Linked DNA regions of Homo sapiens. The protein of the gene in region 4 interacts with the protein of the main gene of each other region in a pairwise test. Each region holds a gene or a part of one and is shown on either strand. Other genes may lie near its edges. The genes, in order: RBP3, ATP23, TRIM35 and MGAT5B.

The links.
Region 1: the proteins of MGAT5B (region 4) and RBP3 interact in a two-hybrid assay, tested with the Homo sapiens proteins (one large-scale study listed by BioGRID).
Region 2: the proteins of MGAT5B (region 4) and ATP23 interact in a two-hybrid assay, tested with the Homo sapiens proteins (one large-scale study listed by BioGRID).
Region 3: the proteins of MGAT5B (region 4) and TRIM35 interact in a two-hybrid assay, tested with the Homo sapiens proteins (one large-scale study listed by BioGRID).

What each region holds. Positions count from the first base shown.
Region 1 is NC_000010.11:47,351,363-47,357,329, forward strand, and holds part of RBP3 (retinol-binding protein 3 precursor), read left to right. Parts: coding exon 1-176; intron 177-1,962; coding exon 1,963-2,153; intron 2,154-4,013; coding exon 4,014-4,156; intron 4,157-5,739; coding exon 5,740-5,967.
Region 2 is NC_000012.12:57,947,736-57,953,702, reverse strand, and holds part of ATP23 (mitochondrial inner membrane protease ATP23 homolog), read right to left. Parts: intron 2,990-5,967; exon of another isoform or gene 2,819-2,989; intron 1,946-2,818; coding exon 1,808-1,945; intron 98-1,807; coding exon 14-97; intron 1-13.
Region 3 is NC_000008.11:27,303,926-27,309,892, forward strand, and holds part of TRIM35 (E3 ubiquitin-protein ligase TRIM35), read right to left. Parts: intron 919-5,967; exon of another isoform or gene 836-918; intron 1-835. UniProt on the Homo sapiens protein: E3 ubiquitin-protein ligase that participates in multiple biological processes including cell death, glucose metabolism, and in particular, the innate immune response.
Region 4 is NC_000017.11:76,898,635-76,904,601, forward strand, and holds part of MGAT5B (alpha-1,6-mannosylglycoprotein 6-beta-N-acetylglucosaminyltransferase B), read left to right. Parts: intron 1-3,920; coding exon 3,921-4,036; intron 4,037-4,668; coding exon 4,669-4,742; intron 4,743-5,617; coding exon 5,618-5,788; intron 5,789-5,967. UniProt on the Homo sapiens protein: Glycosyltransferase that acts on alpha-linked mannose of N-glycans and O-mannosyl glycans.

The DNA.
Region 1 (5,967 bases), on a different chromosome or scaffold from region 4:
AGATGGCCACCAAACTGAGCGGTCTGCAGAGCCGCTACTCCAGGGTGACCTCAGAAGTGGCCCTAGCCGAGATCCTGGGGGCTGACCTGCAGATGCTCTCCGGAGACCCACACCTGAAGGCAGCCCATATCCCTGAGAATGCCAAGGACCGCATTCCTGGAATTGTGCCCATGCAGGTGAGACCCAAGAGAGACCTGGCTGAACCCAGTCCCGGGAGTGAGTTGACCCATTGTCCGCACATGCAGGGCTCTGTGCACAGTGCGTGACAATGGCTTTTAGATTTGTTCTCACGTTTAAGTTTTGACCGGTCAAGTCCTTTCCTCTTTCTCAACCTGTTCCATCCACTCTCTGTGACCCTGGGGTTGCTGAACACCTCTGTAGAACATTCATATTAGGTTGGTGCAAAAGTACTTTCAATGGCAAAACCCGCAATTACTTTTGCACCCACCTCACAGGAAGCCAGTTTGAAAGCCAACCAATACTCACAGGAAGCCAGTTCGGAAGCTCCTGGGATAGAAGGCATTTCAGCCTTGGCTGGGTGGAAGGTGAGTGTTGGCAGGGCTTCTCATTGTCAGTGCTAGGGAAGAGGCCAACACCTGTCAGAGGTGGCCAATGGACTTCACCAAGTGCCCCACGCTGGCCGAGAGCTCCACCTAGGCAGCACTCACACCTCCACACTGTTCTACCTGTGGTCTGCTGCATCGTCACAATTGGGCAGGGCAGCATTTGCCATGGGATCCCTTGCAAGGAGGGTCTGAGACCAGGGCTTGGGTGCAGGCGCTTTGTCTGGGAGGCGGTTACTGAAGCAGGCATGAAGGAGGGAGCAGGGAGAGTGGGTTGGGAAGCTGACAGGCAGGTGCCTCAAAGCTGTTCTGCTGAAGCCAGGACCCTGACGAGTGCAGGGATGCTCCCAGGCATAGCCCTCTGCAGGCAGGGCCCAGTGGTTCCTGTCCCGCATTGGCCAAGAGTTGCCCTGAGACATGCCTCAGGGTGGGGCAGGCTCCCTCTTCTTGGAGAAGGCCTGAGCTACGGGTGGAAAGGCAGGGCTGTGCTATAGGAGAGCCTGTCAGTGGGGTCGGGTGCAGCTGAAAGCAGAGGGGGCTGAGAGTGCCAAAAGCATCTACTACAGAATTGTTATCCCCATTTTCCGCAACTGAGGCCCGGAGAGGAGCAGAGGGGAGTGGCCTGAGGCCAGAGAGCTGTGACTGAGGGCAGGGCAGGGCCTGGAGGGCAGTGTCTCTGTCAATGAAGTCTCCTTGCCTGTCAATCTCACCAAGACCTGCCTCCCTCCAGCAGCCTTAGAGAGGGAGGAGGAGGTGCATCCACGTGCGAGTAGCCTGTGCTAGGCTTGCAGAATCCCCAGTTTCCAAATCAACATCTCCTTCCTTTCCAGTATAGCCAAGGTTCACGATTTGGAGTCAGATGTGGATTCAGATTCTGGCTCCACCACTTACTGACTGTGTGACCTGAGACTAGTTACTTAATCTCTCTGTGCTTCAGTTTTTCCATGGAAAAGATGGGGATCGTGTTATCTCCTGTACAGGTGGCTGTGAGGATGATGATAAGCTCTACAAAGTGCTTAGTACCGGGCCAGGTGCCTGGTAAAGGTAACTAACATCTTCCAATCCTGCCCCAGTGGAGCAGCTTAGAGACATAGGAAGTATCTGGTAAGGTTGGAGAGGTCAGAGGGGAGTCCATTCCTGGGCCTTCTAGCTCAGGACACCAGGGCATGTGGGTGGCAGACAGGAGCATCCTCTGCAAGGAGGCTGCCCATAGATCACACATGTCCCAGTGGCATGTCACATCCAGACATGCCACTGGGAAAGTCCCTGGTGTCTACTAATTCCTTCAGAAATGTTAGTTCCTGTCCCATGCCCTTAATATTTCCCATGGCGCCTGCTTTCCTGGGCTCTAAAACTGGCTGCTCCTCCTGACACTGAGTAGGACCTCCAACTCTTACAGATCCCTTCCCCTGAAGTATTTGAAGAGCTGATCAAGTTTTCCTTCCACACTAACGTGCTTGAGGACAACATTGGCTACTTGAGGTTTGACATGTTTGGGGACGGTGAGCTGCTCACCCAGGTCTCCAGGCTGCTGGTGGAGCACATCTGGAAGAAGATCATGCACACGGATGCCATGATCATCGACATGAGGTCAGTGGCCAGGGGTCAGTGCTTCCTAGCCAGGACGCAGGGCTGCCAGGGGACAGTCAAAGCTATGGGCCACAGCAGGGAAGAAAAGGAACCCTGTGACACAGCAGAGGACCTGAGGGGGGCCAGGCCTCCTGCCTATCAGGGCTTCGGCCAGCTAGCCCAGCAGATCTGCTGTCATTGCAGGTGGGGCCCAGCACTGGTAGTTTTTGCAAGCTTCTCCAGTGATTCCAATGTGCATTCCAGATTGAGAATTACCCCAGATTTGCCTGGTCATAGGATTCAGTGGGGAGGAGAGGAAGGAGATGTTAAAAACACTGATTCCTGGGCCCCACTCCCCTCTTACTGACTCAGAAGCTCCAGGGGACAGGCCCGATAATCTCTATTTGACAGGCATCCCAGGTGATTCTGATGGTCAGTGGTGTGTGAGACAGCCAGGCCCCCCACCTGGGAGTGTGCCTCACATCATACAAAATCAACACATGACAACCCTGGTCATATGAATCGTACAGGCAGAATTTGGAAATCACACAGGGAAAATTTAGAAGTTAATCACTATTGTTAACAAAAGAATTCTTTGCATCACCAAATGATTGTCAGAAGGATGTCTTCAGCTAGCCACCTCCCCTCTGTTTCTGTAAAAATGTGCCTCATATGTCATGAGTTTACCTCATGGACCAGGGGTAGGAGGTGGATGAGTACCCTCAGGCAGTGGCCAGACCTGGCATCCCATGACTCTGGGGTCCATTGGTGGACATGCCCCAGCACCCTCCCTGGGCAGGTTGCCTTCCTCAGACGGGACCCTTCCATGCTCCCGTGTTGTCTGAAAGAAGTGGCAGGGGGTGGCAGACCAGAAGCATTCACCCAGCTCCAGTTCTCTAGCCCTCAGCGCTCACTCACATGGTTCTTAGTGGTCACTAGGTGGCTCTCGGTCCTGCACCCACTGCTTCTCCTCCCTGGGAGATAAAACATTAGCCCTGGCTCCAGTTCTGTGTGTGTTCACAGCCTGAGCTTGAGGCTCCTGGGGTCTCTCTGATCATTTTATTCTTTAGAAGTTCTGTTGAGCACCCAAATGACACTCATGCTAAGTCTCTTTCTTCTGAATATGCCATTTACACTTTTTAAAGAGGAGATGGCCCCAGCCTGCAAGTGCACTTTGCTTAAAGACCCTCCCACCCCTGAGGTTTGTTTGGAGGTTCAGACACTGACATCACAGGCCCCGAACCCAGCCAGGCCATCCCAGGCCATCAGTTGGACGAGGCTCCTTAACACATCACTAGCCCCAGTGGGGAGACAGGGGCCCAACGAGGTCACACAGTGGGACAAATCTAAATGGCCTGGGAGAAATACAGGCTCCCCTGCTCCCAATGCAGCTCCACAAGCCTGAATATTTCAATACACTAAGTGCCCTGTTAAGACACCTGAACTAAGACAGCTGGTAGGTGTCATAAGATTGTCACAGAATGCAACGGGAAAAACAATGTTTCCCAAAATGTGTTCCACTCATAGGAAGATATGGGTGCAGGGGAGCAGTCCATGGTCAATAAATGGGGGAAATTTATCAACAAGTTTCTGACTGCAGGACTTGTCAGGGCCTTTAATATATTAACATGTATTAATTACATAGCAGAAGGAAAGGATAACATATTTGATCACTAAGTTTCTTGTTCTAAAGAGACTAGTACTCTTGGAAATACTCTGGAAAATGCCAACCCATGGAATTCTAAAGGAGGAAGAGGCACTAGACTGAGGCTGCCAAGAATTAGAACCCTCCATGGGACAAAGATCCTGGCCTCCCCGAGGGGCACACAGGGCCTCACTGTGAGCTCAGCCCCTGAACAGGCTCTGCTTCCCATCCTTCAGGTTCAACATCGGTGGCCCCACATCCTCCATTCCCATCTTGTGCTCCTACTTCTTTGATGAAGGCCCTCCAGTTCTGCTGGACAAGATCTACAGCCGGCCTGATGACTCTGTCAGTGAACTCTGGACACACGCCCAGGTTGTAGGTACGTGGAGAAGCTTTCTCCTTTCTGCTGTCATTCTAGAAGCTTCTGGGAAACCAGGGAAAGACAGCTTGGGTGTAGGTAAAAGTCATAGTAACCAGAATGTAAGGCCCTGTCCTAGTCCAGGCACTAGATGTGCATGATCTCGAATCCCTGAAAAGCATGTATCACTATGCCCGTTTTCTAGAGGAAAAAAAAGGGGGTGTTGACTAGGTCAAATATCTTTTCTAGGGTCATGCAGCTAATAAGTGAAACCCAAAATGTGAATATTAGTTTGTCTAATACCAAAATTTCCCCCAGGCTTAGCACCATAATCACCAGCCTGCAGGACAAATGCAGAATTTGAAGGATTCTCCCCGCCCCTCACCAACCCCAGTGGGCATTGCCAGTGCTCACAGTACTTGAGCTCTCAAGCCACAGTGCCACAAACTTGCCTGGAAAGGTCATGATGCTGATCGGGCTTCTGTTCCCCGCCCTGGGCCCAGAGCAGTGGCTATAGGAGCAAAGGCAGGCCCTGAGCTTTACAGAACCATAACTCTCAAAGCCCCATTCCAGGGTGGATGGCCTCCATCTATCTTCCCTGCCCAGTGTGTAAGACCAAGGAACTTGTGCTCCTACCCAACAAGAAAGGACTGGAGAGACCGATGGGGGTGTGCCTGTGACCAGAGAAACACCCCACCATTTTCATGTCCATGCTTCTGTAATACACAGGCATTTTGCTGTAGCTCCTAGGACATACGTTCAATAATATTACAAGTGTAAATGCAAATCAGAACCAGGTGAATTCTAAATTCAAATAGATGTTCAAGACTGGAAGTTAAAGATAGACTCAATTCTGCAGATAATGAGGCCCCAAAACCGCAAGGTCCAATATGGGAGCCACAAGCCACCTGCGGCCACCAAGCATTTGAAATGTGGCTCTCCCAAGTTGAGATGTGCTGGAAGTGTGATGTGCTGGAAGTGTAATGTGCATACCAGATTTTGAAGACATTATGAAAAGAAAACCTCATTAATAATTTTATTTGATTACATTTTGAAAAGAATGTATTTTGGATACATTGGCTTAAACAAAACATGATTAAAATTAACACCATGGGTTTCTTTTTGCTTGCTTAACATGGCTACTAGGGAACCTAAAATGACATCTATGGCCAGCATTCTGGCTCACGTTGCATTCCTGTTGGACAGTGCTGTCCTGGAGAGTTGTTCTTATACATCACAAATTGGGCTTTTCTGAGTCCAAAGTGAAAAGGAAGTCAGGTCGGTTTAGGTGTTCTCATTATTCATGAAGAGAGAGGATGCTCCTTTCTCAGGAGAGTCAAGCCTTTCCTATCACTTGGCATAAAAAGGCCTCGTTGGGAGTTGTCAAGCACTGAAATCCTCGTGATTGGGCATGCATTCTTGTCCCCATTTTACGGATGCAGAAATCAAGGCTCAGAGAAGTCAAGTGGCTCACAAGTGGACACAAGGACACAGACCTAAACCCCCGGGCCTCCTCCATCACTGCAGGCCCAGGCAGGATAGAGAAGACAGGTGCTCCAGGGTCCTGACATGACCCCCATCCTGAAGGGCCTTATGTCTTCCAGGTGAACGCTATGGCTCCAAGAAGAGCATGGTCATTCTGACCAGCAGTGTGACGGCCGGCACCGCGGAGGAGTTCACCTATATCATGAAGAGGCTGGGCCGGGCCCTGGTCATTGGGGAGGTGACCAGTGGGGGCTGCCAGCCACCACAGACCTACCACGTGGATGACACCAACCTCTACCTCACTATCCCCACGGCCCGTTCTGTGGGGGCCTCGGATGGCAGCTCCT
Region 2 (5,967 bases), on a different chromosome or scaffold from region 4:
TATTAGTTTTTACCTGGTGGTGTTGTTTTAATCCAAAATGTAACCTGAATATTTCATTGACAAGTGAGCAGTCTCCACTAAGGTTAGCAGCTCGAACCTATCACACAGAAGACAAATAAAAAGAAATAAACGCTCATGCTCTATATATCTTTATGATATCAACCAATTTTTAAAAATTAGAAAAGAATATAAAATTAGCATCTTTGTCTGAGAAAAGAGTATTTGTGACACTTCTTCTTAAAGGACTTTTTAAACTCTATTGACAACGAGAGCAAATATCTATGAGCTATGCTAGACAATGCCAAATACACTGGAGAGATGGGGAAAAGTTCAATCGCCTACCAAAGGAAATTTTCTAAACTTTATGCGTAGCTTTACTGACAGAACTAATTTCTTTTGGAACCAAAAGTCAGAGAGCTAGACCTCAGAGTTAAACTACACACTCTACAAGATACAAATACTTGTAGAAATTGCCAAAAGTACTTCAAGAAAGCATTCTTGAAATAAACTGAGTTTCAATGTGACCTTAAAACTGAATGCATTAATATCTGAGACACTTTGAGAATATGCCCCTCCCAACCCTTGCCCGAATCTCCCTTGGAGCTTCCCTCAAACCTATATAAGTTCATGACCTTCCTCTAGGGACTTGATTGTCCTATGAAAAATGAAGCAATACAAAACACAAAGAATCAAGAACATTCCAAACTGGTCACGCTATGAGCATGACAGCCTGAAATTAGGACATATTTTCAGATTTACTATACTTCAATGAATGAAAAAGTCTTAGAACTACCCACATAGATTCTACAGGCAGCTTGACCACATTTTTGCTAATTCATTGCTAACAGAATGGCCCACTTCTTGTTCCTTCTTCAATATTATGGCCTCATTCCTCTGAGGAGCTCAAAGTACTTAACACACTTTAACTAGCTAAAAGGCATTAATTCTCACAGTACCCAAGAAAGAGACCTATTTAAAAATTCAGGTTTCAGTCTATTCTCCAAATAATTGGAATTATAATTAGATGCAGGGGGCTACATATTAATTTCAAGAGAAAGGGAAATAATCGAAGTTATATAGTATAGGCTTGAGATTTAGATTATTTTAATTAACTCTTCAATTAATGACATCCAAGTATATGCATATGCAGAATACGCTCTCTCTAGGAGCATATTCCAAGAGCAATCCAACGTGCTTAGTAATAAATATCTTTTTATGTTGTATTTTTGAAAAGAGCATGTTTTACTCTAGGGCAAGCAAGGAGCTCTATGGAAGGCAGCTGGGCAAGCTAGTTAAAAACACTAGTTGTAATCCTGCCTCTACCACTTACTAACTTTGGAATCTAAACAACTGTCTCACTTTCCACATATGTAAAACAGGGACAATAATAGTATAATATCTATCTCAGTAGGTTATTGTGAAGATTAAATAAGAATCTGTGCAAACAGAACAGTGTTTGGAACACAGCCCTCAGTAAATTTTAATTATTTTTTTATTTTTATTTTTATTATTAATGTCTCCTATGGAATACATTATAAAATATATTCCATAGGAAAAAATTAATAGCTTATTAAAGTCAGTCATCACTATTACTAGGACTTACAGGATATAGTTAAGAGAATTCTAAAAATACACTTTAAATTTCTCTAACTGTATATCAAAAATGGTATTCAATGTTAGTTATAAACCGAAATTCAAGACTAAGGTAGAACTATGACAGTAAGAAAAGGAATACATTTAAATAAATTACACTTGAATAAAATATTCAAGCATAGAGTATTCTGGAGAAAAATACAATAAAACTCACCTCTGAGCACGCCAAATGTCTGATGTTGGTGAACCAGTCGACATGGGCACGACAATGATCAAATGCATGAATAAGCTCGTGTGTGACCACTCTGTTCATATGGGCCTGATTATGGATATTATTCTGGCACAAAACTATCTAGGAGACACCAAAATAAAAGAAGTTCAGTGATTCTAAAATCTCCTTCCATAGACTCGATCTTCTCTCCCACATGACCTCACCTCTCCCCCACAAGCTCACCTGCCTGGAATATCTCTACCCACTCTTCTTCATTGGCCACACATCTACCCATGGGACAAGTCCTAGTCCTAAGTGTACATGCTCCAATTGCCTCGCCCAGTGACTAACTTCTCCCTTCTCCTCTCTCTGGACTACAGCAGTACTTAGATTAAGGACACGTATTCACACACCATCCTTACTGGGCTGATCGTACTAGTCTGTCTCGGACTCCACAGCATTATGGTTAAGAGAGTGGGCTTTGGAATGAAGCACACAGATTCAAATTCCAGCTCCACCCCTTACTAACTCAGTGACCTTAGGCAAGTTTCTTAATCTCTCTGTACCTCAATTTCCTCAACTATAAAAAGGAGATAATTAGGGTAGCTACCTCATAGAACTGTGAGAATTAAATGAGAATATATGTAAAATACTTCTTATCAAGTTTCTGAATGAGCATTGAATGAAAAAGGAATGACCACCACTGTCCTCATTTTACTAGAATGAGGGCAAATGCCAGGGAAAACTCATCAGAAAGACCTTCAGAAAGAAGTGCAAAACACAACAGCACACTGAGCAGGACCCTATAAGAATAAGAAAGACACAAGGGATCCTAATAGTAATAGCTGCCATTGATTGTGTACTACTGCCAGACACTGGGATATGTGCCAGATATTTATATACATTCATTCAACATCCATTGATTCAACTAATACTTATTGAGACCTAATAATAGATTATAATCTACTGATGGAGATAGAAACTAACCAAATATTTACCAAAATGTTTACATACATGCAATGACAGTTGTCATGAAGAAAAACCCAGGTTGTCATGAGCATATACAATGAGGTTGGGTGCAGTGGCTCATGCCTATAATCCCAGTACTTTGAGAGGCTGAGGCAGGCAGATTCCTTGAGCCCAGGAGTTCGGGACCAGCCTGGGCAACAGAGCAAAACCCCATCTCTATAAAAAAATAAAATAAAAATTAGCCAGGCATGGTGGCACATGCCTATAGTCCCAGCTACTTGGAAGGCTGAGGTAGGAGGATCACTTGAGCCCAGGAGGTTGGTGCTGCAGTGAGCCAGGAACACGCCACTGAACTCCAGCCTGGGCAAGAAAGGGAGACCCTGTGTCAAAAAAAAAAAAAAGAAAAAGAAAGAATGCCTGACCTACTCTGGAGGTGGGGGAAGGTTTCTCTGTGGAAGGAATGGTTAAACTGGTATCTAATGGAGGAATAGAAGTGAAATTTGAGGTGTGGAGGGGAAGGGAGTATTCTAGGCAGAGAGAAAAACCTATGCAAAGCGTAGAGGGAGGGTTGACGGAAGAAAATGCTTGAGAAGCTAAAAGGAGAGCCCTAGAGTTGAAGCACAGCGGTGGGGGTGGTAGGCAACAGATACGGCTGGTGAGGTCGGGGGGCCAAATCCCTGAAGACCTTGTCTTTACCCTAAGAGCAATGGGAAGCTCTCAGGATAAAGGGAATGTTGAAACAGAAGACTGCTTTTGTTTTATTTTGCTTTTATCCTTTTAACTATAGTTGGAAGAATAGGCAGGAGATGGCCAAAACTGGATGCAGAGAAATTAGCTGAAGGCTAATATTCTAGGCAAGAGAGAACAGCACTTCAGCTAGAATGGTGGTGGAAGCCAAAAGAGTTATTTAGGAGGTAAATTAGACAAAATATGTTGATAGAATACGGGGAAGGAATCAGGGGTATCAAAGATGATCCATAAATTTCTGGCTTGGCTAATAGGGTCGATGGTAGCACCATCCACTGAGATATGCAAAACTAAAAGACTGGGTTGAGTGGGGAGATGGGGGATGGTAAAAATCATGAATTTGGACTTACACATTTCAAGTCTGAAGTGTCCTTAAGACCCTTAAGTAGGTGGGGAGCAGTGGCTCTCACTTGTAATCCCAGCACTTTGGGAGGCTGAAATGGAAGGATCATTTGAGGCCAGGAGTTTAAGACCAGCCTGGGCAACATAGTGAGACCTCATCTCTACAAAAAATTTTAAAAGTTAGCTGGGTCCAGTGATGCACTCCTGTAGTCCCAACTACTCAGGAGGCTGAGATGGGAGGATTGCTTGAGCCCAGGAGTTCAAGGCTGTAGTGAGCCATGATTGCGCCACTGCACTCCAGCCTAGGCGACAGAGCAAGACCCTGTCCCAAAAAAACTTTTTTTCCTTAAAAATAAAAATAAATAAATAAATAAAAAGATGCTCAAGTAGAGGTGTTAAATGGGCACTTGGATATATGGAATGTGGAGTTCTTAAAAGTGAGCTTTGACCCCAGAAAATTGATGAGACCTCCTTGGCAGAGTAAGAAAAGAAGGGGCTCTATGACCAAGGATTGAGGGACTTTGACATTTAAATGCTAGTAGAGGAAGGTAAGCTAGCAAAGGAGCAACCAGAAGAGTGCTGTATACTAGAAACCAAAGAAAGTGTTTGGCATTAACAGCTGAAGTCAAGTGTATACAAACTATATGACCCAGTAATTCTGCTCTTGAGCATATACCTTAGAGAAACTCTTGCACATGTGCACCAGTAGCGAAGGTCAAAAATATTCATAGCAGCATTGTTCATAATAACAAAGTTGGAAACAATCAATATTAGAGTAAACTATAGTATAAACACACAACGGAATAAATACCATATAACAGGGAAACGAAATAAACCAGAGAGGTACACACAACAACAAGAAAGAATCTCACAAATGCTGAAGGTGGAAAGTAATTGGAGACTATATACTGTACAATTTCATAATACTACAAAATGCTACATAAAATTCAAAGTATAACATGTATAAAGCTCAAAAGCAGGCAACTAAATAACACACTGTTGGATTGTATATGTAGATGGTAAAGCCATTCAGAAAAGCAGGGAATGGTTACCACAAAAGTCAGGATAAGGAAGGGAAAAGGACCTGATTCAAGAGGACCACGAAGGCTTCTGAAGTCCTAGTAATGTTCTTTTTCTCTAGTCTGGGTGGTGGTTACATAGGTGTGCACTTTATTATTACTGAAAGTGTACATATAGATGTTTTACTCTTCTGTATGAATGAGATACTTCATAATAAAAATTTTCATTTAAAAAAATAGGCCAGGCACAGTGGCTCACGCCTGTAATCCTAGCAGTTTGGGAGGCCAAGATGGGTGGATCACCTGAGGTCAGGGGTTCAAGACCAGCCTGGCCAATATGGTGAAACCCTGACTCTACTAAAAATACAAAAATTAGCTGGGCATGGTGGCACATGCCTGCAATCCCAGCTACTCAGGAGGCTGAGGCAGGAGAATCACTTGAACCCAGGAGGCAGAGGTTGCAGTGAGCCCATATTGCACCACTGCATTCCAGCCTGGGTGACAGAGTAAGACTCTGTCTCAAAAATAATAATAATTTAAAAAATAATAATAAAATAAAAGGAGAGGGTGCCCAACTGTGTTCAACACTGCTGAGAATTAGGATGAAAGTTCAAGATGTGCACTCTGTTTAACCCTGGGGGGACCGAGAAGGGAGTGAACTTATCCAGAGCCATTTTGAGAGCTATAGGTATTGTGATTACCAGTTTACAAATGAGGAAACTGAGAAGAAGAAAAATAACTTGCCCAAGCCCCACAGATAATAAGCAAGGAAACTAGGATTTGAACTCAAGTCTGACTCCAAAATCTAGACTTCTCATCCTTGTTCTATATTGCCACTTCACATGATTACTGTAAAAATGCTATAAATAACCTAAATACATACAAAATTATCCAGCAGGAAACAGTTAAGTGTAGTTAAGTATGAATTATACATTCAAGTGGGAAACAGTTACTTATAACACCATCATTTACCCTGATCACATGACATTATCTACCACCTCCAAGACTCTGTCGAAACTCTCTGATGACTTAAAACTAATAATAAAATTTATTGAATGCTTACTATGGGCCAGGCACTAAGATAAG
Region 3 (5,967 bases), on a different chromosome or scaffold from region 4:
TCAGGTGATCCGCCCGCCTCGGCATCCCAAAATGCTGGGATTACAGGCATGAGCCACCGCGTCCAGCCTACGTTAAAGATTAGTTATAAACACACACAAAATAGGTTTTTATTCATACTAAAGGATCCAGAATGTGATCATATAGACTACATGATTTCCCAAAAATGACAAGTTGATTCCTTAAGCAACAAATTTCAATTGCATATTGAAGATCTTAAGCACTTTACAAAATCACGTTACCCACAATTTTCATTAACAGGACAGGTGCTCTGTGGTATAGCTGGAAGCAGGAAGGTAGGGGCAAGGGAAAGAATGAATTTCATTGCACAAGGTCTTCATAGCCTCTTTGCAAGGACTTACCAAAGTGCTAGAGTTGCATGTGAAACCAGCTCTGTCTGGCCTGAGCCAGGTTTTCTGTCTTGTGAGACTTGATACACACTGTTGCTCTGCCTGGTTCCCACCTGCTTCCCCCAACTAACCCAACATCACCTTGAAAACTCGGCTCTAGTACCCCTCATTTCCTCCAGGAAGCCCCCCGATCTTGCCAGCTCAGGTTCCATTCCAGGGCATCACAGCACCCTGGCCACCTCTGTCTCAGCACTCACTATCCAGGGTAATAGCTTCTCTTTCCTGAGGGCAGGTCTTAACCTCCAGGTCCTCTCTACCTTGCATAGTGGTGCTCGGTACACTTCTGCAGAAGGAATGCTTGCTCTGCAAGGTGAGAGACTTTGTTTTGTCCCCTGCATGTCCAAGTCCCTGCACAAAGTAGATGTTCAGTTAACCACCTGCCCAGTCAATGAGTACATGGAATGCCTGTGTTTTTTCTGCTATATACCTTGCCTCCTGGACTGAAGGTTAGGAGAGCTGGTTTGGAGCCTTGTCTTTGTCACTATCCACTGGTGAGTTGGTAAAAAGTTCCTTCTCTCTTCGGCTATCAGGCTCCTCACCTTAAAAATGAAAGCAGAGAAGTCTCTACAGTCTCCCAAATTTCACGATTTGTTTTCAGGCAGATTGATGTAGCAGCCAAGAGTTCTGGCACCTGGCCGACCAGGTTCAAATCCCAGCACCTCTACCTAGTAGCAGGTGATCTTGAACATGTTCCTTCACTTCTCTGCACCTCCATTTCCTCATCTGGATAAGAGGGATAAAAAATACTACCAAGCTCAAAGGACTGCTGTGAGGACTCCACAAATCAATCCCTATAAGATGCTTACATGAGAGTGGCAGGCACATGCTGTGCATTCGGCATAGCTCTTAAGTGCCACCTACATGCCAGGTAACCTAACTGTCCTGCTGGATATGGTCCAGGTTTCTTAAATGAACAGTAAAAATGCATGGAGCTTTCTTATGCAACTCCAAATCAGTCTCCCAGATCTGTCTTTCCCCTTTGTGTTCAGACCTCCTTCCAAAGCAAGTGTCTGCCATGCAGCCCACTGCTGGAGGCCATCACTCAGGAGCCTCAGTGTGCAGGGTCTAGTGAGACACCCCCCACTCCCAATACCACTGGGCACAGGCCTGGACAAGCAAGCAAGCAACAATGTCCTCTGGTGCAACCAAAGAGCTGGTAAGTCCTCACCTAGAAGCTGGGGATCAGGATGGGGGTGAGTGGTTAGGAAATGGGGAAAAGCATTGGAAGGGGGAAGACCTGGAATGTGGCTTAAGAGGTATCGAGAGTACCCTTGGGTTAGATCCAGCCAGATGGACTCTAAGATGTTGACGCCAGAAGGGGAGAGAGGGCTGGAGCTGGGACAGGGAGAGGCTGGTGGCAAAGAATGGTCATCATGCCAGTCCTGCAAGATGGATAAGACAAGGGTCTGCACAAGGCAGCTCAGCACAGGGCTGCTGTAGAAGATGCAAGCTGGAGAGTGCTGGACTGGGAGGCAGGAAACCTGAGTTCTGATCCTAGAACTTTATTTATTTATTTATGTAAGATACAGGGTCTCACACTGTTGCCCAGGCTGGATGCAGTGGCCCAGTCATAGCTCACTGCACCCTCGAATGCCTGGCCTCAAGCAATCCTCCCATCTCAGCCCCTCGAGTAGCTGGGACTACAGGTATGTGCCACCACACCCGGCTAATTTTTTTCTTCTTTGGTGCAGGATCTTGAACTACTGGCCTCAAGCAATCCTCCTGCCTCAGCCTCCCCAAGCACTGGGATTACAGGCATGAAACACACTGGCCTTGATCCACTTCTCATTACTTAGATGTAACCACCTCCTCACAAGATGTAACCATTCCATCACAATAGAATGACGCACGGTCTGTGTCTGAGGATGTTTTCATTTAATGGCAACCTAAACCAAACCTAAGACAATCCTACTCCAAGCCACGACATAAACAGCGCTGACACATGCTTTCAGTTCACAACTTCATCATCAGCATTCGTATTTTCTTTTTTTCTTTCTTTTTTTTTTTTTTGAGACAGTGTCTTGCTCTGTCGTACAGGCTGGAGGGCAGTGGCACGATCTCGGCTCACTGCAACCTCCATCTCCCGGGTTTAAGCGATTCTCCTGCCTCAGCCTCCCAAGTAGCTGGGACTACAGGTACCTGCCACCATGCCTGGTTAATTTTTGCATTTTTAGTAGAGATGGGGTTTCACCATACTGGCCAGGCTGGTCTCGAACTCCTGACCTCGTGATCTGCCTGCCTCGGCCTCCCAAAGTGCTGGGATTACAGGCATGAGCCACCACACCCGGCCACCATTCATATTTTCTTAACAGCTTACTTGATATCAAGACATGACTTTCATCGTCTTGTCCTGATAAGGAAAGAAGAGAAATACACATAGCAGGTAAAGAATGTGCCGGACCCAAATGAAGGCCAATCCCGTAACAAGAAAGCTCCAGAGCTCTTCAGAGAAATTTGGGCGGATTAAGTAGTCACTTGGAACAGAGTAATGGGAGAATCAGAAGTATCTTGGCCAGGAGTAGAGATTTTGTTCCAGCAAAATAAAACTTTAGAATTAATATTTTAAGTGGAATGTTATTGATTATAGTTTTGTATTCAGTCTGTTCACTTCCTTTTGTTTTATTGCTTATATGTAGCATGAGCAAGTGCTATTTATACCAGGTTTGCATTTGTATGCATGTAAATAATAACATAATTTAACTCTCACTGGCTAGACTATTTTTTCCTTTAAGAAGAATGCATACTTGTTCAAGTTTGAGAAACGCCAGACTAGGATTTCTGAAGGTCCTTCCAAGCACTGTTCCTTGCTACAGCTCTGCTGTAAACATGATGCCAGGCTCCCAAATCTCATCAGTCCTTCCATCATGCGCCACTGCACCTACGATAAAAATCCCAGCTCCTAAGCAGGGCCCTCTGTGTCCTGTGGGATCTGTCCTGCAGTTCCTCATCCCCACGTGAACCATCTCTCAGTCACTGCACACCCCCACGCTGTGCCCCGCCGCCACACCCCCGCCACACACACACACTGCTCGCCGCCCCTCAATCAGCTCCTCTCAGCGAAATCACTTCCTTGGAGACTCCTTCCCACACCCCACCAAACAAGAGCAGCCTCCCCCTTACAATCTCCCACCACATCCTGTACTGTCCTTCACAGGAATGTTGAGCTGAAACTATGTAATTATTAGTGAGATGATACAACCATGCCCACAAAGGCAAGGTCTAGGACTGTCCGGTCCTGTCCTGGACACAGTACTGGCACACAACCAGTACCTTCTGCCAGCCCTGACAATGGTCAACAGCCACTCCAACCCCTAACACACAGTCAGCTGCCCGCTGAAGTCTGAGATGAGAGAAACCTCTCTCAAAGTCCAGGACCAGTGTGTGAACTGAACAAGGCTCCAGGTGATCTTTAGAGCTACTTGCTCTGTGACTTTGGACAAGTTTCTTACCCTCTCTATGATTCTATAATTGTCTATAAAATGGGGATAATAGCACCTAACTGTAGCAAGCTGAATAATTATTTCCCCGAAAAGATGTCCCCATTCTAATCCCCAGAATCTTGTATGGCAAAAGGGACTGTGCAGATGATTAAATTAAGGATCTTGCTGTGGGGAGGTTATCCTGGATTACCTGGGTGGGCCCAATGTCATCACAGGGTCCTTATGAGAGGGAGGTAGTAGAACTGGTCAAAGAAGTCAAAGTGACAACAGATGCAGAACGGAATGACACACTTCAGAGCTGGAAGAAGGGGCCTCTGCAAGCTGGAGAAGGCAAGGAAATAAATTCTCCCTGGAGCCTCCAAAAGGAATGTAGCCCTGCAGACACCTCGATTTTAGGACTTCCAACCTCCAGAACCATAAGAGAACAAACTTGTGCTATTTTAAACCACCACATTTATTACGCAGTAACAGGAAACACAGGACCTGAAAATACGTTTTTGTGAGCATTAAATTTGTTGACGTGTGAACACTGAAAAGCATCTAGCACACAGTGAGCACTGAAATGTGTTAGCTGGGATGATTTTGACTTTGCTGTTCCTCACATAGATAGTTGGCAAAGTAATCTTTCTCTAAAACACACATCCCATCACAAACTCCCCTGTTTAGAATCTTTCAGAGCTCCCCACAGCACAAAACGGAAAACCCCCTCAGTGAGGCACACAGCTTCTTACCCAGTCCCTTCTTACCAAGTGGTGGAGGGAATCTTCCCATACCGCTCCCCCACAACCACCTACCTTGAATCACACAGAACTACATCTTGTCTATTGACTGTCTATGCCCCCTGCTCAAATGAGAATTCCATGAAGCTAAGAAGAGGCCACAGCACACAACAGCCATCAGTACCCATTTGTCTAGTAAATGAGTGATTTGCACCCTGCATCAGGCTGACCACACCTGGCTCTCATTCTTCTCAGATCCATTTGGGACTAGACTACTCAGCCCCTGACATCATCCTGAGTGTCCACTGACTTGACACCATCATTCTTCTGCTAAAACCCCCAGCTGCTGTTCACAGCAAGGGTGAGCCACCGGCCTCCTGGATCCTCCTGCACGTCCCTCCTCATTCTAACTACCCTTAAATTCCCTCAGTGCCTAGAAAGTCAGGCTTTCCCACTTCTGGACCCTTCCAAATGCTGCTGCCTCTATCTGAAATACCCTCTTTCACCTGGCTAACACCTCCTCTTCCCTCGGGTCTCTGCTGGAAGCTCCTTGAGGCTGGAAATGGTCTATCTTGTCTCCTGCAGTATCCCTGGGACCTTGCAGTACCAGGCATCTGCTGGTGCATGGCTCTCTGCTCTTGAATCCTGGCTTGGCCCCAGCCTGGGGGCTCTGCCTGGGTGTTCTCAGCCCTGACCCCAGCATCTCCTGATCAGCACCTCGGCCAGCCAAATAGGCATCAGTCATGACCTGAACCATGATCCCTCCTTTACCTGGGCCCCAGACCCCTGGCTGGCCAGCACTTATTCCAGCTGTCCCAAATCAGGATCTGTCACTTCTGCCAGTGGAAACAGGAAAAGCATTGACATGGACCCATGTTAAACAAAAAAGATGACAGGAGTAACAGGGTTACTCATTGAGACATGCGTACTGACAGCATCCTTACATTCCCCTTCAATTAAACTTTGTCAAATGCATTTGGAGCGGAACAGACTTCCGTATTTAAAAAGGTATTGCAAAAAAAGAAGGCAGGGCCACAGAGGGGGCCAGAAACCAGGCACAGGGGACTCGGGCAGCTCCTCCTCTCCAGTCCATGCAGCTTCGGGCCAGCTACCCAGTGTTCTCCCAATTGGGGCTCTGACTCATGCATTAGCAGGTGATGAAATAAATTCAATGTTTCACATTCTGGGTAATTTTTAAAAGTAACAGAGGCCAGGCGGAGTGGCTCACGCCTGTAATCCCAGTAGTTTGGGAGGCAGAGGAGGGCAGATCACTTGAGGCCAGGAGTTCCAGACCAGCCTGGCCAACATGGTGAAACCCTGCCTCTACTAGAAATTAAAAAAAAAAAAAAATTAGCCAGGCGTGTTGGTACATGCCTGTAATCTCAGCTACTCGGGAGGCT
Region 4 (5,967 bases):
ACATTCTGACTCTGAGATTCGTCTATGTCATTGCACATAGCAGTAGCTTAGTATTTTTTTTATGTCCATAGGTTATTGGGGTACAGGTGGTATTTGGTTACATGAGTAAGTTCTTTAGTGGTGATCTGTGAGATTTTGGTGCACACATCACCCGAGCAGTATACACTGCACCCTATGTGTAGTCTTTTATCCCTCACATAAGGCCACATTCTGAAGTTCCAGCTGGATATGAATTTTGGAGACACTCTTCAGCCTAAGTGATGGAGCCCCGAGCACAGGGCCCACGCTGGCCAGCATCTGGTTCCACACAGGAAAGCCAAGTCCCTGTCCTGGAGGACTCAGGACTCCATTCGGGGTTTCAGGCTGGCCACTCACAACCACACCCACCGTGGGTCAGGGGGTTCAGAAAGTGACCTGGCTCTTGCAAGACGGATGGAGAGGAGCCTCGCTCCAGGGAGAGGTGCCTCCAGGAAGGGCTGAAACGGGTTGAGGTCCGTTCCAAAGTCTCTAGTTGACCTGGCAGGACCCCTGGCTTGGCTTGTCTTGACATAGGTTGTTTGTGCCCTGGGGTCTCTGGTTAGAAGGTAGGACAGGCGCCCAGTTTTTCTCCATTTTGCGTGCCTCCTGTCATGATGGGAGCCTTAGAGCCCGGCTCGTCTCCAGCTCTGAGCCTGCAGCAGTGGAGGTTTCCCTGCCTCTGCACTCTGTCCTTGAAATATTCATTCCAGGCTGGGTATGGTGGCTCACACCTGTAATCCCAGCACTTTCAGAGACTGAGGCGGGAGGATCACTTGAGCCCAGGAGTTGGAGACCAGCCTGGGCAATATATTTTCTACAGAAAATTAAAAAAAAATTAGCCGGACGTGGTGGCTCATGCCTATTGTCCCAGCTACTTGGGAAACTGAAGTGGGATGATGGCTTGAGCCCGGGAGGTTGAGACTGCAGTGAGCCATGATTGCGCCACTGCACTCCAGCCTCTGTCCAGGGTGGCAGAGTGAGAGCCCTTCTCTCTCTCCCTCTCTCTCTCTGTGTATATAAAAAAATATTCATTCCTGTCAAAGGAGTGTCCATCTTGCCCCTGTAGGTCAGCATGGAAAGCAGCTCCACGGGCTTCATCTGGACTGATGTCAGAGCCTGGCAGACATCAAATCGGCATGTTTCTTCTTGGAGGGAACCCAGGCATTCTCGGTGGGAGCACATCACTGCCAAAAGGGAGAACACTGGTTCTTGAAACAATCTTAGCTGTAAGAAACCTCCTAGACGGGCAATAATGAGAAAAGGTTGATGTGCCCTGGTCTAACCCAAGTCCCTGTGGCTGCTGCTTCAACCACATCAATATCAGTGCTGATCACGAATGCAAACAGTGCTGATGTCACACAGGTGCCGCTGGCCACGCACTTTACAGCTCTCTTCATTCAGTCCTCACCATGGTAGCTGCCCTTATGTCTTAAAAGATGAGACTGGTGAGCACAGAGAGGCTCGGTGACCTGCCCAGGGTCACATAGCTCATAGGGGTCTGAGCTTCCTCTCATCTCCTTGTATCATACTGGTAATGAACCTTGATGAGTTTTGGATAGATGAAAAATACTCCTACTTCCTTCTTCCTGAGGACTTTTTGAGCAAATGAAGCAGGTAGCTTTTACGTCTCTTCTCTTTCTTTGTAATCTCACAGAAGGCTGTCGTGCATTCAACTTTGTGCTCCAAAAAGCCATGTCCAAGTCCTAGCCCCAGGACCTGTGACTATGACCTCATTTGGATATAAGCTCTTTGCAGATGTAATCAAATTAAGAGGAGGTGCTACTGGATTTGGATGGGCCCTGGTTCCATGGCTGGTGTTCTTATAAAGAGAGGAAAGTGGACACAGACACACACAGGGGAGAAGGCCGTGTGAAGGCGGAGGCAGAGGTCGGGGTGGAGCAGCCACGGGCTGAGGAACACTGAGGGCTGCTGCTACCTCTGGAAGCTGGGAGGGAGGCCTGGGGGAGGCTCCCCTAGAGTCTAAAGGCGCCGGCCCTGCTGCCACCTCGCTGTCTGATTTCCAGCCTCCAGAGCTGCCAGAGGAGAAATGGGTGTGGTTTTAAGCCACCTGGTTTGTGGAAATTATTGCAGTCACCCCAGGAAACTAACACAAAAATGGTGGCATTTTTTATTTTAAGAGTTTTATGTTTGTTTGTTTTTGTCAAAGTTTGCCTTGGGCACTGAACTAGAGTGAGAGGACAGACTGGATTGTGTGTGCATGTGTGCGTGTGTGTGCATGTGTGTGCATGTGTGTGTGTGCGTGTGTACATGTGTGCGTGCGTGTTTGTGTGTGAGTGTGTGCGTGTGCACGCCTGTGTGCATGTGTGTGTGCATGTGTGTACATGGGGGGCTTGTTCCCCATTCCTGTCATCTGCCTTTTGTCCCCTCCACTTCGGTGTCTGCTTTGCTCCCACCTGTCACCCTGACTAGTCCCCCGATGTGTATGGGGCCACTGCCCTTTCTTTCCTTAGGAAAGGTGGAGGTGGGAGAGTGTGATGGCTGTAGAGGGCGGGTGGCCATTGAGGGTTCCTGCTATGCCTTCTCTAGTGGACAGCTCACTAGGCTCAGAAGAGGAGGAGAGGTGGGGTTTGCAGACCCGAACGGAGCCCAGGTTGGAAAAATCCTTCATCGAATTCCCATTATGTGCAGCCATAAAGACCAGTACCTTGTATAGGGATAAACGGAGCTTAAACTGGGCCTGCAAAGCCACGGGGTGAGGTGAGAATCAAAGGAAACCGAATTAATGTGTTAAAAAAAAAAAAAGGCAAGCAGCTTCCTGGAGAAAGACCCCCAGGGCTATCTTTGTGTGAGAAGATCTGCCAGCTGAGGGGAATCCATCTCAATAGAAGTTTGCAATGAGATAAATACTGCATATGACGGCTAATAAATGTCCCTGAGAGCTGAGTAGTAATCAACACAGGAAATAAATCCTCCAAAAATAAAAGCAACACTGGTATCGATGGTGAGGTGGAGGGCTGTGGTGGTGGCAGTCACCTCCTTTAAGATCCTGGGAAGGATTTGTTCTCAGGAAGCCAGTGATAATTTACCGGAGTTTTAATACCTGGCAAGTTCCCAGGCTTCTGCGGGTAGAATTTATTTTGGCACAATATGGCCTCTTGGGAGGAAATAGAGACAGACTCGGAGAGGCCCGGCTGTGCCTAGGAAAAGGCCTCTGTCACCTGTGTGACCCCTGGACAGAACCTAGCCAGGCTCTTGAATGGAATTCCTCTGCCTGTTTCAGCCCCATGCACTGCCCTTCAGCACACATGCAGTAATGCACGGACATGCCTGACACGTGCAGATAGGGTCACATGTGCAGATATGGGCACACGTGCCATTGTGGGCACACATGCAGATGTGGGCACATGTACAGTTGTGGCCACACATGCAAATATGATTACATGTGCAGTTATGGGTATGTGTGCAGTTGTGGGCGCACATGCAGTTGTGGGCACGTGTGCATATGTGGGGACATGTGCAGATGTGGGCACCTGTACAGTTGTGGGCACACGTGCAGTTGTGGCCACATGAAGACATGTTCTCTGACTGCTCAGGGAAGGTGGACATGAGGCCTGGGGCCGAGGGGTGGGGGATGTCCACTAAAGGGCTCTCTGCAGATATGATCACACATGCAGTTGTGGGCACAACATGCAGTTGTGACCAACATGTGCAGATATGGGCTTTCCCGTATGTCTGTAATGTGTGTACTGGATGGGGTGGGCTGCCAGCTCCATCTTCTCACCCGATTCACTCCCCACCATTTGGTCTGCTTGGGGTCAGGGTTTGGGAGCCTGGGGCATTGCAGAGCCTGCCGCCTTTGCCTGTGGGCCTTACTGGCAGGACCCTCATGGGAAGGTCACCCCGGCCGGTTCTGTGGCTCACCTCTGGCTTTTCCCACTTAGGATGCCCCCTGGGGCCGGCCTCATGGAGCGGATCCAGGCTATTGCCCAGAACGTCTCCGACATCGCTGTGAAGGTGGACCAGATCCTGCGCCACAGTCTGCTCCTGCACAGCAAGGGTGGGTGCCAGGGGGCGGGGGTACCCTCTACCCCTAGGGGGCCAATGAACTGGGTGCTGGGTGGGCCCTGGGAGGGTGGGACACTTGGGGTGTGGCCGACTTCTCCTGACAGCAGCTCTGCTGGCTCTTCGGGGCCCCAGTTTAGGCTTTCAGCAGGACAACTGGGGGTTCACTCCCTCGACCCGGCAGGAGGGCGCTGAGGACAGAGGAGGTCCCTGGAGTCTCAGCTTCTGGGGTCCACAGTTCCAGGAGTGAGGCCACCTGGGGAAGGGTCCCTCGGCGGCCCCTCCAGTCCCTGTGATGTGGGGAGCAGCGAGCTGGGGGCTGCAAACCTCATTTCTGCCTCCTCAGAAAACGCTGGGGATGCTTTCGGGTGGGTGCATGAGGTCTGCCCATCCAGGCAGCTGCTGAGTGGCTGTTCGCACCAGCTCCTCACTGCATCTGAACCCCCTGAGGAGGCCGGGGGCAACCTAGGCCCGGGTTGACCTTGTGGGTGGGTTGTGCGGCTGATGAGCTTTAAGGTGGGAAAGCCTGGCAGCGGATTGTGTGGGAAGCTGCCTCCCGCACGCAGGCCTCCCTCCCTGGGCTCCTCCTTGGACCAGGGACTTCAGCAAGGTGACCTCTCCCTACAGTGTCAGAAGGCCGGCGGGACCAGTGTGAGGCACCCAGTGACCCCAAGTTCCCTGACTGCTCAGGGAAGGTGGAGGTGAGGCCTGGGGCTGAGGGGTGGGGATGTCTACAGCTAGGGCCTCTCTGTCTGGCCCTGGCCCCTCACCCAGGCACAAGCTGGCAGAGGCCAACCTCAGGGAAACAGCTTCTCTGCTCAGTGCATCCACCCCACCCATCAATCCAAATCCCCCAGAAAGAGTCTCCCTCAGGTGTCGGTGCTTTCTCACAGCAAATGATTAAATCTCCAAGTGTCACCGCCAGCAGCCGGATTCCCCCAGAGACTCAGAGGAGTGGCCCTGGCTGCCCTGTCCCTGCTCCTCCTGGCCCAGCCAACAGCTGGACGGAGAGTCTTCCTGCCCCATTTCTGGGGCCACCACTGGCTGCATGAAGTCTGCCCTTGTAGGAGTCGTCCACAGCCGTGAAGTCAGCTCCCCACTGGTTCTGAACGCCCTAAGGGGTGGGCGGTGGTGCCGCAGACCCCTTCCTTGGTGACCATCTGGGATCACTGCAGGTGGATCCCGCCCTGGCTCCAGCCCTGGCCGCCTTGGAGGCTGCTCCCTGACCTTGGCCTCTAGCCCAATCCTGCTCTGGTAGCAGGGAGACGGGGACCAGAGGGAGAGGGAGACAGCCAGGCCTCCTGGCTCTTTGCCCCAGACCTTTGAGCCAGTGTTCTCTCCCAGTCTCTCCTCTTTCCAGACATGAGGGCTGGTGGTCCTGCCCCTGCCATCTCTGGGGTCCTTCAGGCGGGTCCTGGTTCAATCTCTTCTCTGCCCTGTCCCCTGTTGCATCAGTAGGGTGGGCCACATGGGCCCCATCCTTGACCTCAGGACCCCTGGGGGTGCACGTGCGGGGGAGTCCCCGAGGGTCAGTGGGGCTGGCGCAGCCCCCTGCCCAGCCTGGCCCTCTCTGCAGTGGATGCGTGCCCGCTGGACCTCTGACCCCTGCTACGCCTTCTTTGGGGTGGACGGCACCGAGTGCTCCTTCCTCATCTACCTCAGTGAGGTCGAGTGGTTCTGCCCCCCGCTGCCCTGGAGGAACCAGACGGCTGCCCAGAGGGCACCCAAGCCCCTCCCCAAAGTCCAGGTGGGCCTGGGAGGTGGGTGGGCCGGTGAGGGGCTGGTGTGGCTGGACATTCTTAAGGACAGTGGACAGAAACCTCTGTCCTGAGGGAATGAGACTGAGCTGCTTGCCAGGTGTGTGGGCAGGTCCGAGCCCACCCTACCGGGCAGACGGGAGGCCAGCCTGCCAAGGCCTGTCTGCCT